Linked DNA regions of Homo sapiens: region 1 is linked to region 2. Evidence: fine-mapped QTL for protein levels in blood plasma. A gene starts in region 2. The other region holds a variant in brackets. All regions are shown on one strand. Distances are from middle to middle.

Region 1 (9,567 bases), 440 kb before region 2:
GGTTCATGAATGCAAAATGGACCCAAAGAGCCCGCTTAGTCTCTAGTTGCTGACATGTCTTCAATCATAGAAAAGAGCCTCTATCTTAGAAGACAAAAACTATTTGTGTAAAAACCCCAAACAAACCTTGGATGAGGATCTGGGACATGTGGTAACATTTTTAAAGAGTTGAATGAATGGGATAGGAAAGAGAATGTTGACTGGAATATGGAATAACTCAAACTTGCGTTTGAGACTCTTAACCAGAATTTTCTTAGAGCCTAGATCTAAATTTAATTAGGTGGAATCTATTGTATTCATTGTCTTAGAACCTTTAAATATGATTCATATTTATCTCCGTTTTATAATAGTAGAAGTTGAATCTTCACAATCAAAAAGGAGAGAAAGCTTGTGTTTAACTAAAATAGTTTTATACATTGTCCCTATGGAAATTCTAGATGCATACAGATGCTTGTGGCAAAGTGCTTTTTTATACAATATAACAGGGGAAAGTTTAGAATGAAGAAGTAATTTTGTGAATAAATCCTTTCTAAAACAGGCTGAAGTTTCTGAACATACTCACAATAAAAATTGGGGTGCCATTCATTTAGAGGATAATTACATTATAGAACCGGCAGTTAAGAACACATTTTCAATGATGCTTTCTGTAAATTAGTTAAAGGGCTATCTTCCTTCCTGCCTTCTTCTCTTCTTTCTTTCATGTTTCACATCTTACTGGGCTTCAACTATGTGTCATAAACTGGGTTAGTTTATTGTGATATAATATTGAATAATGTAGACAGGTTGTCCTAAGTCCTCTCGGAACTTAGAATCTAGCTGGAAAGCCTGTCTATTTGTTGATCCTATAATATAAAGGCCATCAGAATTCATACTTAGGATTACAAAAATAAAAATTATACCTTCCCTCTTCAAATTAGTGAGTATTCAGTTAGTAAATTAATATTATCCACAATCAAGTTCAACTTCAACTTGACCATATGACACACATTTCTAGGACTTGAATACTCATATTGACTGACCTGAGTTTATTTTTTTTGCAAACCTGATATCTTGAATTTTTATCAATCACAGCTTTAAAATTTGCAACATATCGATTATAAACAAACAGACATAGAAGCTGTAATTTACAGAAACCCAGTAGTATTAAATAGGCCACAAAACTGTGCTCACAGAATCTCCAGAATTATTTAAGACTCCTGGCAAAGGCGCAGTTCCACAAAGCTCTGTACCCTATTCACCTGGGACCACTCCTGAAGTCAGCTTCTCCCAGCCTCTGAAGCAGCAGTAGATTATGCAAGATAATGAAATGTGTTTGTTTTATGGAAAATATTTTTTGAAAGATACATTCATTCAGAGATTTAGAAAGTCTATCTTTAGCTTCTGACAGGTTGTGTGTAAAGAGTCACCTACCCTTATACGTCTGAAGAGCAGGAGCAAATGAGACTTCACTTTTATTAATAAATGAAGGGTAAATCATGTGGCGAGGGGCACAGACTCTGGAGGCCAAAGTCTTGGGTTTGAATTTGTAATCCACTGTTGGTAACCTTGAGCAATTTGCTGAACTTTTTTGTGTCTCAGTTTACTCACTTGAAAAGTAAGATGGTAAGATTCATTCTCATAAGATTGTTTTGAAGGTTAAATAAGTTAATAAACATAAAACTCTTGGAATAGTTCCATACATATAGAAAATCATATACATATGTATACGTGTGTGTTTAATAAATATAGTAAATTAATTTATTTTAATTTGAAAATTAGCTGTAATTGAATTGCACAGAGTGACCCAAGAGTGATCACATAATCACATGTTTAAATTTTACCTTTCTTTTACTGTAGACATACATACATGTTGAATTAAAACATGAAGAGAAGAAAAAAGGATCTGAAGAAGAAAGTCTAGTGTTAAAATTAAATATCCAGAACAACAGAGAAGGCATATGGGAATTACAGTAGAAATGTCATTTAAAATTTTCTCTTGTAGATCATTTATTGTGCTGGCTGTAAAAGACAGTGCTGACTGTACATCATTCCTTGAAAGAGTATCCTCAAAGTCATGATTGCTTCTCTTGCATTAGTAGAGTTCCGTTTTTGCAAAATGCAAATCAGAGACCTTATTCTCTTAGTTAGCCTACTTAAGTTTAGATGGAAGAAGTTTTGACATATATGATACCCTTACTGACTAATTTTACAACACAGGAGTGGCTAAGCAAAATTCACACAAAATTTCAAGAAGGAGCCCAACAGTCTTTTTTTGTTTTTCCTTTGGCAGAATAAAACAGCCACCTCTTCTCTCCCAGCTTAGAGATGTAAGTGGAATTACTTCTTTACATAAATTCAGTAAAAGATGTAAGATAAGATAAGTAATGATTCTAAAAATGTTTACAACAAATAAAATTTTGGCATATATTAATTTATATTATTCTCAAAGAAACACTATGGGTATTAATTCTTAAGTATTACAGATTCTGAAACACATATTCAAAGCTATGTCAAATTATATCATAAATAGTGAAACAGTCTCAAAAAAGAGTATTATGATCTATTTTTTTTGACTCTTGGCATTACTATAAATCATAGTACCTTTTTGTGAGTAGTAAATAAAAACACCTATTAATCTGCAACCAGTCACTCAACATTAGTGCATTAGTGAACACTGAAATTGTTGAAATACTGAATGATTTAGCAGAAAGTGTGTTCAATTACTTCCAAGAATTATTCTATAACTACATGTAGTGTCACTCTAGAAATCATTTAGTTCTGGAACATAGTTTCTCTTAAGATGGAGACCTCAAAAACAAAGACAAGATATCATGGTAAGGATTTTATCCATCAGAGTCTTGGGTGCCAATATTTTCTCATTAGCATTTGCATAATAAGAGATATGGAAAAGATACTGAGAAACATTTTAATTTTCTGTCTACAAGTTCTGTAAGATGGGATATAAATACAAGAAGCAAATATTTCAATAAGGAAGGTGAAAGATTGAATTATTCCACTGTGGTCAATACTTTTGATTTTTGTCATTGTTTTTGTTGTATTTTTTTGTTTTATTTTTTTATTTAATACTTTTTATTTTAAAAGGTGTGGATTCAAGAAATAAAATGGGCTAATGTCTGTTTCTCATCCACAAATTAAGTCATTCTGCTGTGAGGAGGAGTGGAATATGAGGCAGGAAACTAAGAGTGTTTTATAAAACTCTGTCTCATATAGGAAAGGATAAATGAAAAAATGATATTCCTCTCCTCAATCAGAGTTTCGAGGAATAGAGAGATGATTTTTGAGTTGAAACAATCAAAGTTGGTACTAGGGAATCTAAGATTGATGTAAGCCTTGTACCATGGGCAGGATTTGAGTAGGTTTTCAGGAAGCACATGTTTTGTGATGAGGGAATAACGTGTAAAAATGGCTTAGTGATTTAAATATAAAAGGCAAGTTCAGAAACAATAAACATGAGTAACTAGAGCAGAGTAGCCATGGGAAACATTGGGGCAGATACAACTGGAGAGGTCAGATGATACAACAATATGAAAAGAATGCTGGGAATATGCATTTGTTTTCTGCATTTTCATGCTTTTGATCCTATAGTCAATACCATTAAGCAGGTATTCCAGGTTTAGGATTAAAATGCTCACTAAAAGGCAGATGCTAGGTAAACTCTTTCAGGGCCCCTTGGAAACAGCTCTGGGACTCAAGGCTGCTGAGATAAGGAAAATGGTTAGAGCTTCACAATTAGAATCAATCAGCTTGAACCATTTTCTGCCTCTGGGTTCTCCTCCAAATTGGAGAGAGGATCAAATTGGCCCAACTTGAATTCCCTACCCAGTATGTGGCCAGGGGAAAATAGAGACACTTAACCACAGACAGCTGGCAAAGGAAAACTGAGGTGATTTTGCCAAGAGATGGCAGAAGAAAGGCTTGGTTGATGAAATGAACAGATGTCCACCATTAGTGATGTGTCTAACAGTAGGTAAGGGAGTTTTAATCATACACAACGTGGATGTGAAAAATGGGGCTAAGAAGCAGAGCACTTACAAAACTGCTGTATTATAGGATGACAGGGACCCTGCCCCTCTTCTCATTGTGCTCTAGGAATTCTGAATACTTGCAGGCACTACCTCTGATTTTTCTGTTTACATATATTTCACCTTTAGCATTACTGTTCCCTGTGCTTGAGATACTTATCTTCCCCCTTATTGGTTTTCTTACCTCCACTTAATCTTTCCATGCTGACTTTTAAAGAACCTTCTTTATCAGCTTCCCCAGCTGCTTCAGACAGACCAGTCACTATGATTTTATTTATAACCATATCTATCTATGTCACTTTTACTAGATATAATGCCTGTCATCTCTTTCTATGGCCCAAAGCAGCAGATTTAAGAATTTCCTGTGGTTGTATCATCATACTTTGTTTCACCTTATCCTGCACTCAACTGATGGCAGCAGGATGACCTGAAAGCAGCCAGTAGGATGACCAGCAGTCTATGCACTCAATCATTCTGTCTACTGTCAGAATGTAACAAGCCTGTCCAATGGAACACATGCTGGAGAAGGTTAATTGAATTAAATTCAGATTTAAATAGCTACTTGTGGCTAGTGGGTACCCTGTTGGAGGAAGCATGTCTAAAAAGAACAACTAAGGCCACAATAGGAATTATGGAAGCAGAGACAAAGATGAGCCAAGTCATAGCTGTGGCCAAGAAGACATCAAGGAATCTATGATATAAGGGGATTATTAAGGACTAAATGTCTGTGTGCCTCCCTCCAAATTCATATGTTAAAATCCTAATCTCCAATATGAAGGTATTAAGGATTGGGAGGTAATTAGGTCATGAAAGTAGAGCCATCATAAATGGTATTAATGCCCTTGTAAAAGAAACCCTAGAGAGTTCTCTCATCTTCTTTCAGTTATCTGAGAATACAGTAAAACAAAAGAAATGCAACCTAGAAGAAAGCTCTCACCAGAACCTGACCATGCTGGTACCCTGGTCTCAGACTTCCAACTTTTAGAACTGTGAGGAATACATTTCTGTTGTCTATAAGCCTCTCAGTCTATGACACTTTGTGATAGTAGCCTGAACAGACTAAGCTAGTTTATTAGTCAGGATTCTCTAGAGGGCGAGAACTAATAGACCATATATGTGTGTGTGTGTGTGTGTGTGTGTATGTGTGTGTGTATACACATAGATATATGTGTATATATGTATATATACGTGTGTGTAGATATACATATATATGTGTGTGTATATATACGTATATATATGTGTGTGTATATATATGTATATATATACACATATATATACGTATATATGTGTGTGTATGTATGTATACGTATATATGTGTGTGTGTGTGTATATATATATATAT[G/ATG]AGTTTATTAAGTAATATTAACTCATGAAATCACAAGGGTCCCACAATAGGCCATCTGCAAGCTAAGAAACAGGGAAGTCAGTCTGAGTCCCAAAGCTGAAGAATGTAGAGTCTGATGTTCAAGGGCAGGAAGCATCCAGCATGGGAGAAAGATGTAGGCTGGGAGGTTAAGACCATCTAGCCTTTTCACGTTTTTCTGCCTGTTTTATATTCTGGCCATGCTGACAGCTGATTAGATGGTGCCCACCCAGATTAGGGTGAGTCTGCATTTCCCAGGCCACTGATTCAAATGTTAATCTCCTTTGGCAACACCCTTACAGACACACCCAAGATCAATACTTTGCATCCTTCAATCAAATCAAGTTGACGCTCAGTATTAACCATCACAGCTATGAATGAATAGAAGTGTTAAACCTGGATGGCATAATGAATAACCACTCAGTTCCATGAGGGGAGGCTTTTCAGCTGCTGAGATAGACCCTGAACTTTCGTACTTCTCACAACTATAGAGACTACCTTAGACTGTCTCAATTCTTTGAGAGGGCACCAAATAATGCAATTCTTTAATCATAAAATATTCAGATATTTTTCCAGGAAGGGAGACAGAGAGCAACCACTTGGGGGTTCATCTTCTTACCACTATCCCTGATACATTTAACTCCTACACCCTCATCCTTCATTCCCCAAACTCCTCCTTCATGTTCATTCCTTCTCTATCATTTCCCCATCAAAAACCACTTTCAATTCTTCGCTTCTTCATATTCTCTCAGATCATCCAGCCTACATATGCTGCTATCTTTGCCTGAAAATCTCTTCATCCTTCTACTCCCAACTGTGCATTATCATTCCTGATCGTGGATGCCTCTTGCTCTCAGTGGCTATTCTTGCTGCAGAAATTCAAGATAGATGTCCCACACATTAGTCCAAAGAACCGTTATTTTCTTTGAACATACCAAGTACCAAGTGTTATGTGGTTCTTGTTAATTTTGATAATTTTTCCTCTAGATTACCTCCCACCTGGATTATAACTCTATAAGAGAAGGAGCAAGCCATATCTTGCCCACCACTGTACCCAAACATCCAGCATTGTATATGTCTCATTTATTTTTGTTAAGCTAATAAATTGCATCCACATTTCATGGAAGAAATGCACAAAGTCAAAAAAAATTCAGGAAAAAGATATGAGCAACTTTTCTGCAAGGTTATGATACATTTTTAGAAAGTGTTTCCTTAGTTACATTATTCTTATGTATTTGATAATGAGGATAAACATCTTTAAAAGCTAGAATGATGGTGACCATTTTCCTAGATGACTTTTCCAATTGGTCATCAGAGAAGACTGAGAGATAGTATCACACCTGGAGAAGACTAAGAGTTGGTATCACATCCTTGAGAAGAAGTTGCTTATTGCAGTATGCTTTCTGATTTGAATCTTAGCCTAGAAATTTTCCTCTGCCTCACACAGTTATAAGCAGGACTTCATATTGGTTAAAACAGAATCAAATTACAGATACAAATACATGTTGAGTTAATAGGAACATCTAGACTTTCCTAGATAGACGTTGACCAAGGTATGAGTGAAATATATCTGTTCCACCTAATTCCTCCATGCTGGAGATTGTAAATCTGTGTGAGAAGAGTGATACCTCCAGGAATTCTTTCCCATCATGGTGTGCATGAACAAGTATGCCAGAGAACAAGTCCTTTTTTTTTTTTTTGTAGTGAGTCCAGTGAAAACAAGCAATGCAAATGCTGAATCCAAATTAACTTCCGGTAATTCAGCTTTGATTCACTATCCTGAATAATCAGGATTTTATATTTGCAACTCAGGTTGAAATTAACCCTGAAGATATTCTTCTGTATACATTTCTTCTTGCCCTTCTTGAAGAGTTAAAGTATAAATTGGTACCTTCATCTTAATTGAAACACCGACGCAATGTATGATTCTTTGTCAGTGTTGGGCTTGACTACAATAGAATGAAGATTATTTTTCCACCTGTGACACTGTCATTATAATCATCTGACTTATATTTATAGTCAAGTGGGAGTGATTCTCTGATGACTTAGAGCCTTTAAAGCTGAGGATAACAAAATGCTGGCTGAGAAGCACATATAAATCCCAAGCAGAGAGAAAAATCAAACCACCTGTTACAGTATTTGTTTTCATCTAATAAAATATAGAGAAAAATAGAAATAATGAGTTTGGAGTATTCTAGGCAATTTAAGGAAAGAAGTCAATAGGCAGTATACTAAACATCTCTCTCTGAACCCCAGTAATTGACATAGCAGGGGCATACAAAAAAAGATGGTTCACTGGAGGCTGACTTTCTCTAGATAAAAGCTAGATTGCTCATCCATTTCATCCTCTTTTTGCCAATAACATCTGTAGCCTTGAAGCAAATTTTCCAACATGGTAGCATTATTCTCAATTGCCATTTTTCATTTCTTAATCATCTATGGACTGACAGTATCTCAGTACCTGTTCCATTCAACTGATAATTTATCCTTTTTGCTTTCAACTATATTTCCAGATTATTTTAGTCAATGAGAATATTGTTTCTCAGACTAGATATAGATTTATATAGTAGTTTTTTCAATAGCTTCACTTTTGGAGGTTCAACAAAATCAACTCGTCCCATCTACAACAAAGCTGAAATCTATAATAATTCCCAGATTGAGGCTTTAGAGATAGTCATACTGGTGAATCCAAATAGAAATATCCAGTGAAGATGCCGAAGCACCTATTCATAGTTTCTATGTTGATCACCTAAATAATAGGTTTGTTATAGTAGTTGATATTTTTTGGTATGATTGTGTGCTATATAATACTTCCCTCAAAACATAAGCCTCACATTTAATTTACCAAGTTAAAAGTGTTCACATTTAACCTTCACATGAATATTATTTCCTTTGCATTAGTTTAAAAACAATCTCTGAAGTTATTTAGCATATCATTCACTTTGCTGGGATAGAAAATAGCTAATGTGAAATGTCATAAGAGAATGATAATTTAACATTTTTGAAATACAGTTTTCTTTGGGGGCATGATCAGATAAAGAATGTCCAATGCTTTAACATTAAGTGGTGTCTTTTACTATTTTTAAGTTTATTCACTGAACTACCCATAATTTTAAAATATTATCAAAATGTCCACTTTTTCATATTGTTATTATAAAATATATTCATTGTGTACAATTTGGAAAACACAAACAATAATTATAAATAAGCTCCAAGAATGCTGTTATGTTCATCACAGTATTTCTTCTTTTTATTTTGTGCATATCATGCTCTAGATATGAAACTTCGTACCATTTTTTTATTTAACACAATATAATGAGAACTTATCCATAACATTTAAATACAAGTATGTTAAAGTTTTTGATCCAATAGAAAATAGCAAATCTCCCACCTCTAATCCCAAGTGGGCACTTCTAGAATAAGACACTCTTTTTTATTTTTTTAACTTTTTAAGTGGAGGAAGATTACCGCATCAGGATATGAGCTTTTTTTCCAGTGGCCTGAGGACATTGTGCACAATGACCTGCTTCTCTTACAGAGTCAAACTTTTGTGATCTAGGGGTGAGATTTTTTACATAACTAGTCAATGGGAAGCTGGTCAACGAGAAGGAAAGACTCTGATAACTAGGGTGACCTCATAATTTAACTTTTAAGCATGAATAATAATGAATGTGTTGGAAAAGCCATAAACCAGCACTGTTCTAGGCAAACAGGAACATATTTAAGGAAGGCATAAGAAAGGAAATTTTAGTAATAAATTCTAAAATTCGTATCAGTTGAAATCATTTTGGGTACACCATGGTCAGTAAACTAAAATCTATTGGCCAAATCCAGCCCCACTGCCTATTTTGTATGTCTTCTCAATGAAGAATGGTATTTATGCATCTAAGTGATTGAAAAAAAAATCTTAAGATGTGATTCTTTCCTGTCATATAATACCTACACAATATCCTTCATTTTGAATCTTGAATTACAAAGCCTAAAATATTTATAATCAGGCCCTTTATAGAAAAAGTTTGTCACTCTCTGTATATGCTAATATATTCTACTTTAATCATTCATATTGTTTAATACTTTGCTACTTATCCATTTCTCTGATTTGGTGGTTCTCACAACCGAGTAAAATATGGGCTCTTGTAAAGAAAAAAAAATGTTTTCAAACTGCAGAGAATACAGTTTTTCACA
Region 2 (9,491 bases):
TGTGCAAGCCATAATGCTTTTGGGTGAGTTTTCCCACTAAGGAAACCACACCACTAGTGGGATCAATTTCAAACAGCTTGAAGGGATTTCCTCCCACAATGCTGTAGTTCAGGTCTGCATTGATGCCATCATCACTGTCTGTTGCCAACACTGTAGCTACTACTGTCCTGACATTACTCGAAGGTGGCAGTAAAGTGTAGGAAATGTTTTTGGGAAGGGTAACTGTGGGAGCATTGTCATTTTCATCCATCACAAAAAGCGAGACTGTAGCTGTGGCAGATCTGGGAGGATCTCCCCCATCCACAGCCTTGACTCTGAAAGTGTATGTGGTCTGATGTTCCCGGTCAAAAGACATTGTGGAGTAAATGGTCCCCGTGTCATTTTCAATAGAAAAAATGTTATTGTTCTCCTCTATGTACAGGCTCATCTCTGCATTCCGCCCCTTGTCAGCATCCATCACGGTGACCATCCCCACAGGGCTGTTGGGCTGCAAGTTTTCTTTCACATAAAAGGTGAAGACGTCCTGCATAAACTTAGGGTCATTGTCATTTTTATCAGCCACCTGCACAATCACCGTAGTGCTGCCCTGCAGCACGGGGATGCCTTTGTCTTTGGCGTTAACTTTAAACTCATACCTGTCAGTCTGCTCGCGGTCCAGCACGGTATTGACCAGGATGTCCCCAGAATCGGGATCGATGGCAAAGATCCCCATCACAGAGGAGTCCAGCGAGTAGGCGATCTCGGCGTTCTTACCGCTGTCTGCGTCTGTCGCCAGCACCGTGGCCACCCTCTCGCCCGGGATGTTGTTCTCAGGGAAGTAAACCTCCACCACCGACTGGCCGAACATGGGCGGGTTGTCGTTGGTGTCTCCCACCTTGACAATCAGGGAGTTGTTGCTCGAGAGGCTGGGGCTGCCTGAGTCCACCGCCACGATGACCACGTTGAACTCCCGGGTGGCCTCATAGTCCAGAGGGGTCGAGGTGTGCAAGAAGTACTTTTTCTTGTTCTGGTCGCCCTCGGTGTCGCTGGCTGGCTTGAGCTGGAAGGGCACGTCGCCCACCACGGTGCAGGTGACCACCCCGTTCTCGCCTTGGTCTCGGTCGGACACCTGCACCAGAGCGATGGGGGTGTCGACCAGAACGTCCTCGGCCACGTTGGCCACCCCGTCCTTGAGGGGGATGCGCCCAATCTTGCGGATTTCAATGGACGGCACGTTGTCGTTCTCGTCTTTGATGTTAAGGACCACGGTGGCCTTGTCGGTCTTGGGGGGCTGCCCGCGGTCGCGGGCCATGACCGTGAAGCGCAGCTGGTTCACCTCCTCGCGGTCGATCCGGTGCAGGACGCTGAGCCAGCCGGACGTCTCGTCAAGGCGCAGCAGCCGCCTCACCGACTCGGTGGCCGCCCCGAACACGTATTCGATCTGCCCGTTGACCCCCACGTCCAAGTCGGCTGCGCGCAGTTGCAGGATGGGGGTCCCCGGGGCGCTGTTCTCAGCCAAGTCGGCCTCGTACACGCTCTTCTCGAAGCGGGGGCTGTTGTCGTTCACGTCGGTGATGAGGACCCGTAGGATGGCCTGCGAGGAGCGAGGCGGGTCGCCGCCGTCGCGCACTCGCAGGGTCAGCTCGTAGGAGTCGCGCTGCTCGCGGTCCAGCGCCCCCTTCACGATCAGCTGCGGCTGCTTCTCGCCGTCCGGGGTGTCCGCCACCTGCAGCTCGAACACGCTGCTGCGGCCGCCGGGGTTGGTGCCGCCGCCGCCCTCTGATGCGTCCAGCCGCCGCTTGGAGCCTCCCGAGCCGCCGCCGCTCGCGCCGTTCCCGCCGCCCCCGGGGTAGGGGGCGCTGTCGGCCGCCCCGGCGCGCCGGCTCTCGCCGCCGCTGCCGCCGCCTCCGGGCTCCTGGAGCAGCTCGTAGCGCTCGATGCCGTTGCGGCCGAAGTCGCGGTCGGTGGCTGTGGGCAGCAGGTAAAGTGTGCCCACCGGCCGATTCTCCTCCACCGTGAGCGTGAGCACGGGCGACGGGAAGGTGGGCGTGTTGTCGTTGATGTCAAGCACGATGACCTGACCCTCAAACAGGTCCACCCAGCTCTGCGAGGGCCCGATCACCGACACCTCGAAGTCCAGGAAGCACTCGTTCTCGTCGAAGATCATCTGACACTGGGGCAGCTTCTCGCGGTCGATGCGCCGCTCGCTCGTGCTCAGCTCGCCAGTGAGGTTGTCGATCTTCAGGTACTCGGAACCGGACTCCAGGCTGAAAGTCACCTCACCCGATCCGGTCACGATGCCCAGGTCTGAAGCCACGTTGCCGATGCGGACGTCGGCGGGGCCCTCCTCGGCCAGCCGGTACCGGAGGAGCTGCTTGGCGGCCGCCAGGCTGAGCGAGAGCGGCAGGAGGAGGCAGCAGCCCAAGCACCAGCCGCGCGCCCATCCCGCGGTCCGCATCCTCAGCATCTTCTCCTGCTGCTGCTGCTACTGCTCCTTCTAACCACAGCCCCCTCGGCGCCCCCCTCCTCCGGGGCCGGCCGCCTGCCCTCCCCCGAGTCCTCTCCCCTCTCCCGGAAAGGAAGGAGCGAGAGGGAGGGGAGGGAGGGGGCAAAAGCGGCGTGGAGAGTTGGCCGGGAATGGGGGTGGGAGGGCAGCGATAGATGCTTCTTTTTTTCCTCCTGCTTCTTCCGAAAGTTATTGTTTCATAATTCATGCAATGGGTGCTAATCGCCCGCTCGCCTGCCGCCGTTCAGTCGCAGTACTCACAGTTCACGGGACACTGCGCGCCGCGGGTTCGGCGCTCCCCCAACCCAGAGTCATCCCCTCAGCGGGCGGAGAATCCCCGGCTCTAGTCCCCGCTCTGTCGGAAGGGGCCAGAACCGCTCCGGCAGACGGGCAGTGGGGCTGGGAAGAGGTGGGGAATGAGCCTGCAGCCTCCCCCGCCTGCCAGCCCGCTGGTCTTTGCTGCTACTCGAGTTGAGTCCAATTCACGTTCCAGGCACTCACTCCAAACCCAGGCTCTGCTCCGGCTCCGGCCACCCAGACAAACGTGAGTCGCTTCCTGCACCAGGCGCTGGGGCCAGCAACAAGCCAGTCTCAACTCCGACTCTGCTCATGCAGCGGGGGAGCCAGTCAACAGATCGAGAATGAAAAATCCCCCGGCACGTCGCTTCGGGCACGGTGCAGGGGAGACTACTCGCGTCACAGAGCGGTCAGTGTCAGGGTCCCCCCGGCGCGCCAAAGAGAAGCCCGAGCCATCTTCAGAGACGCCCAGAGTCAGTCCCTTCTCACCCCGGAGAGCGCGGGTTTCTCTTTTTTCTTAACAACTCTGCGCAAGGTCATTAGTCACGAAGCAGCCGCCTGAAACCGCAGCAGCCTTTCGCCCACGGGGGCGAAGGCTGAGCAGTGCGCACCGTGCGGTGCCCAAGTTTGGGTTCGCAGCCGCAGAGTCCGTGCCTTTTCTCACCTGCATTCGGCCCGCATGTCGGAGCAGTGGGATCTGCAGCGCTGTGCGCGATTCAGGGAGGAGATTGCAGCCTCTCTCTCCCCGCTCTCTCTCGATCCCTCCCCTCCCTCCCTCCCTTTCTCTCTCCTCCCTCCTCTCTCTCCTCCCTCCTCTCCTTTCCCCTTTCCCCCTCTCCCACTCGCTCTCTTGCACGCTCTCTCTCCTTCCCAATGCAGGGAACTCAAGCTGAACTTGATCCCTTTGCAGTTCAAAGGTGAGCAAACCAGGCTCGGAGCACAGGCGACGTTAGCCGGCGAAAGCGCACGGCCGGGCGTCCCCAACGGCAATTAACAAAGATGCCCAATTCTGTCTGGATTTCCGAAGAAAAGCCAAAGGCTTTCGGGCGGGGGTGGAGGGGGAGGTGGAGTCAGAGACAGCTGCCAAGTAGCTTAAAAAAAAAAATCCAGTTTGCCAAGGGGAGAAAAAGTGTCAGTCGGTTGTGGCCTCGGAAGTGCCCTGGCACGGCTGGTGAATTCCGCAGTTGTCTCGTCCCTTTTCGCGTCTGGGAGAGTCTGGTGCGGGCGCTCCCGCCGCCCCTCGGGCTGCAGCGGCTCGGAGACACTGAACCGCTAGTGGGAATCTCCCGTTCGCTACCCGCGAGCAGGAAACCCGCAAGTTGCCCAAAGTGGTGGTTGCTGCTGGGTGCTCGCTCGCTCACGGATCAGGCTTGTCCCTGACGCTGCTGCTGCAGCGGCGGCGGCAGTAGCAGCCGAGCCGCCGAAACTACACACTAGGAGAGAGCGAGGGAGGAGGGCCCGGGATAAGGAGGCGGGAGGGAGCGTCAGCCAGCCGCCGCGCTCGGGAAAGCCCAGCCTCAGCTCCAGGGGCCGCTCAAAGTGTGCCCAATCCCAGCCAGTCCTCTTTAAGCCAAAGCCCAGTCCCCCTCCCTAGCGAGTACCGCCGTCTTCTCTGGGGGACTTGTTTTCCCTCCCTCGGGCTGGTAAATTTCCTCCTCCCTTGACTAATGCCCAGTTCACGCGTGAGAGCTTTCGGAGCTGGTGTCAGGATAGGTTTCTCCTTCTCCCTCCCTCTCAGACGACGTCCTCCTCCCCCCGGAAAGTGTCTCCGGTTCGCGATTTAGGATCTTGGTTAGGACATGGTTATCGGGGTCCTGGGGAACCTACGAGCGCCCAGAAAGCCACTCTGTTCTGAAAAACCATGACGGGCTGCAGTAGTGAAGAGAGAACATCAAACTCCAGAGAGCTGGAGAAAGATCCTTTTTTGGGAGCTCAGACTTTGGATGGTTGCGGGGGGCAGGGGCGGCGGTGGGTGGAGGGTGAAGGATGTCTGTCTTTGTTTAAATGCTTGACATTCCTGTCGTCGTGCTTGCTTGCGGGGGTAGACCGTGTGTGCGCGCCTGGGGAATAAACACATGTTGGAAACCTCGATATTATTTTCTGAGCAGAAACCTGCAGCCTTTAGTAACTGGCAAAGTGTAGCGTCACCTATCTGGATAAAAGGGAAATAAACTTTAATGGCAACTTTGTGTACCAAAGTGTCCCCAGCTTTCCCATCTCTCCTTTTGACTTTGTGTCCCTTGACTGTCCCTATTTCCTGAAGCAAGGCTTCTCCAATTTTCATTCACGACCACCGCAGCCGGCCTCATCAGATCTCAGGTCTGGTTGTGTTTTTGAACTGAGCCATTTACTCATTTATTTCAGTGGCTGTAAACGAAGAGGCCCGGCTAGGATTAAGACGACTGAGACGGACTGTAGGTATTTGGGGAGAATTTTTACCATCTCGAAAGAGAGAAAGGGCCGCTGCTGGGATTTGCTTAGTCTTCAGCTCGCCTGACGTATCCATACACATTTAAGGGCCTCCCCTCAAAGAAAAATTTAAAGCCGAAAAAATAAAATCTGTCCAGTGTGGGTATTCTTTACGAGACCTGGGTGACGAGGCAGAATGATTTAAACAAGACAAACACCAATAAAGTCAACGAGCAGATGTAGCGCGCGGTTGTTTGGGCGGGCGCAGGAACAGGAATGAGGAGGGAGAGGCGGCAGAGATTTCCAAGCTCTCCCTACAGGGGATCGTAGATGCCCGTTGGATGGAAGTGTGTCTAAGTGTGTGTCAGGGAGCTGGCGAGTATTTTCCAGTCTGTGAAAGTAGCATCACCCCAGGGGTGGTGGCTCCTCCTCCGAGGCCAGGGCAGGGAACCCGGCCTTCCCGCTAACCCTCCCGCTGCTGGCACCCGAACCTCTCAGCTCTGTATCTGCAGCATCAGCGAGAAAAGCCCCGCGCGCAGGCTCAGTGCGCACCGCCGCAGTCTCGAGCCGGGGGCGGGGGTGGGCTCCGCAGCGCCTTCGCGGCCGGCTAAGTGGCAGTAAAGCCAAATCCCTCTTACATTTGGCAAGAACCCGGGTTTATCGGAACGCCTGCCTCTCTCCAAACCTCCGACCCTGGTTCCCCTTTTTCCCAGGTTGGAGGCAAATGGGAGAAGCCGTCTCCACTCCGCGGCCTTGCGCCGTGCATTCCGATGCGCGGCAATATGGTGCAGTGCACTCACTCCCCTCATCGCCTTACTAAGATTTTGCAAACTTCAGGCAGCCGCTTGGGCAGAAACGTTGTGCACTCCCTCTTCCCTCTCCAGACCATAAACTTGAATAAGCCTCTCCGCATCTTCAAAGCATTTGCTCGCGGCTCTGGCGCGCACTCTCCAGGCGCACACTTGAGCGGGGCGCGAAGGAGTGGGCGGCTTTTCCTCAGCGCGCTGCACATTTCTTCCCGGATGACTAGGGAGTTGCAGCGCGTCCTTCACAGTGGAGTGGTTTCCTCTTTGCGAGCGGGAGGAAGTCTCCAGCCCGCCCTCCTCACTCTCATTCCTACCAACTTCGCGGCGGAGCCAAGCCAGCGTGGGAAATGGGTCCGACGTGTGCTGCATGGAGAACAGCGAGGACAGACTGCGGGGGCCAAGAAGCCTGCTGGCTTTGCTCCCACCCCCATCAGTCCCAGGCTCCGACCTTTCTGCCAGAGCAGCAAAGAAGTGGCGGCGGCTTTGCCCTGCAGCGCCGTTCTGGGCAAGCAAAGGAAATGGGCGGGGTAGGGGTACGGGGGAGGTGAGAGGAGCCCTCGGGGCGCCCTTGCGGCGGCTGGAGCTCCCAGTCCTCTTCCGCCCCCTCTCTAGGGGCTGACACTCTCTCCTCTCGCCGGCGCAGAGGATGAATGAAGAGAGAAGCAGTTTCTCCCACCCCCGCCCCATTTCCGCAGTCTTAGAGCCAGTGTCACAAGTGCTCAGCAATTTCATTAAATGGAACCGGGAGACTTAATCCCCCCCGGTACCAGACCTCACCGAGGGAATGTGATATCCGGCTTCGCTCCCACCCACCAACCCCCCCCCCCCCCCCCCCCCGGCTTCTCAGACCCGAGGCTGCATTTATCTACTCAACCTGAGAGGAAAGGGTTCAGAAGGAAATGGGATCGAAAGTGTAACCGCCTGCAATAAATTAAAGAGCCTGCTGCTGCTGCTGCTGCTGCTGCTGCTGCTGCTGCTTTGGCGGCCAGAACTGGAGAGAGAAAATGAGATCAGTGCCCTAAAGCTTGCATCGATCAGAGTGATTAGACGTCATCGCATGTAGGAAGCAAAATGTTTGAGGGAATGTTGAAATGGAGATTTCTGTTTTTTCTTTAGTGGCTTTTTAAAAAAGAACAATAAAAGGAAATACCCCTTTGAAATCAAGATGTAAAAAATGAAATTGATTAAAATATAAATATCATCCCGTGCTAATATGCATTTAATAAAACCTTGACAAACGATTCATTTTCTGTGCCAGAAATCTTACCCTAAACTTAAAATATTCAGTAGATTTTTTTTTTTTAATTTACCTACTAACCTCGCTTGCTTAAACCTGTTTTGCCGTTAAGAAATTTCAGTGGCTGAACTGAAAAATAGCATTCAGGGTCCCTGATGTAGTTCAAGCCTCAAGAAAAGACAGTAAGAGAAGTAACTACAACAAAAGTTTATGGTTAAGAATACAAAGTAGATGCTGGAGATGTGATCTCAGGGGGCCTTTCATTTATAATAGACGCTGTATTCACAATAATATGAGAAAAAGGTTAAATACAGTAAACACGATAGCCAGTTCTGGAAAGATAAAAACAGTTTGACAGAAAAGGAGAAAGTAACTCAAGAACTCCACCAAGGGACAAACAGAGGAAATGACACTCGGATATCTCTAAATCCATTGACCTTTCATCTTTTTAAAAAGGGTCTTCTATCTGTAGACGTGTTTTCTAGGCCTTTATGATCAACCATTTCTCTAACCCCTTTCGCTAAATTTGATACTTCAGTCTTCCTTTTCTAAATAATTACTACAAACGATTGTCCTTTAAACATATATTACTTGAAAGAGTAAACATATCTGTGCATAACTATTCCAAGTATGATTCTGATCCTTGAGACTCTGAGAAACTTTAGATATATTTTACAGCCTTAAATCCATGCTTGTAGTATTAACATGTTTAGTAGACTGAAATGACTAAATTATTCATTGCAATAACAGCCTTTTTGATAGACATTAAAACTCATCAGTTTAAATAAGGAAACCACAGATTTCCTTTTAAGCAGGTAATAACTGCTTGCATCAGTGGTTATTTAATTGGTTTCTAGCCAAGACATAGAATAAGTTGTGCTGTTTAAATCAAGAAATCATATGCAAAGCTATATTTTACAGTGTATCTATAAAAGAAGCACACAGAAACTAAACTAAGTTGATTCATACTATCTACTGGATAACTATAAACATTTCCACAAGGCCGATATGAAAATCTCATTTACAAAAAAAAAAAAAAAAAGAAGAAGCTTTGAAAAATAAAATTTTAAGTGTTTATTAGCTCACACGCTGTCTGGTTTTCAGATTTCAATAGAGTGTTTTAGGTTTTAAAATAACACAGAATAAATGATTTTTACCTTAAGTTTAGCACATATTGACAGTTGATTTTTTATTCATTTTCTAAAGGTTTACATGCCAAAATATGTGCAATATAGCAGAGATTTACAAGTCATGACACACATAAAAAGATCCAGTCAGTGACTATAACTGGCATTTGTCTTTTACTTACAAGATCATTAGTTTATGAATTTTTTCAACTTTACATTAATTTTCATACATTTACAAAAATGTAAGTTGGGGGCACACAGTATTTTATAAAATCTGGATTACTTCTGGGAAAAAGACCCTTGATAGGTTAAAAGCAGTACATCCTATTATTTAGGGTCATCTGAAGCTATCTCCTTTCACTATTGATGGTAAAATTAGACCTACCAATGCCCTTTGCAGTACGAACTTGGGAGATTTGCATATTTTTACTATCGTGGCAGGATATATCAAATACTGCTGTGGATAATGACCTCTAAGCTAGATAACATGTTAAGGATTTGGGGGAGAAATTTCATTATAATTGCTTGGACAAATTTAATTCCCAAACAAATGACCTTGCTTATAACAAGAATGGTTGAAAATTATGTATTAGCTTTAGAAGTTTTAGCACCTGGCTGTGTCGACCTAGCTAGGCCACTTCTTATGTTCATTCTGAATAACAGGCGGTAGAAAACTTTATTCAAACAAATTTGATTGATTGTAATTAGGAAATACATAATGTGGGATGTTTCTAGAATGAGAAATATAAGAAATTTGACTATTTCAGCAGCAATGAATTTTCTAACGACAGATGCTGATACTTATAGGGCAGTCATTGAGAACTTTCCCCAAGTATTTCTGACTGTGGCTTCTGGGCCTAACATGGAATTGTACCTCTTGGCCCCCTTGTGGCTAGATGAGGCCATTAACCAGTTCCGGGCAGCCCTAAGTGGAAGAGGAATTTCACTTCCCTGGGAAATACGGGTGCTGGTATGTAGTCATTGTTCAACTCTGTATAAGTCAGACTGGTTGTGAATTTGACTTAGGACCAATACTTGAAGAATTCAGTAAACTTCAGGCTGACATTGATTTGGGAAAGTGGTAGTACCTTTTCGATACCCATTTCAGTGCTTTTAAAATAAATCATCCA

Alleles and levels. Alleles are on the strand shown, and positions count from the first base shown. The strength of an association depends on the size of the effect and on how common the allele is.
For the plasma level of the protein whose gene starts at base 3,500 in region 2, allele ATG in region 1 goes with a higher level than allele G (weak association).

What was found. PIP is the posterior inclusion probability: the model's chance that the variant is causal. Protein levels are from antibody-based Olink assays in UK Biobank. Linkage for the fine-mapping came from a reference panel and not from the study's own genotypes, which makes the PIPs less certain.
Region 1: its variant is fine-mapped to the plasma level of the PCDH7 protein (UK Biobank, PIP 0.97).

Annotation. Positions count from the first base shown.
Region 1 is chr4:31,150,723-31,160,289 of GRCh38, reverse strand. No RefSeq gene overlaps it. Among named protein-coding and RNA genes, the nearest start is that of LINC02497, 16 kb to the left of the region's middle. The variant G/ATG (reference allele first, on the strand shown) is at 5,365.
Region 2 is chr4:30,714,378-30,723,868 of GRCh38, reverse strand. PCDH7 (protocadherin 7) reads right to left here and starts at 3,500. Exons shown (of 3, transcript NM_001173523.2): 1 at 1-3,500. The coding sequence starts at 2,446. It overlaps LOC124900844, which reads left to right and starts at 4,748. Exons shown (of 1, transcript XM_047416545.1): 1 at 4,748-7,238. The coding sequence starts at 5,962. The coding sequence ends at 6,528. RefSeq lists an enhancer at 1,981-2,691.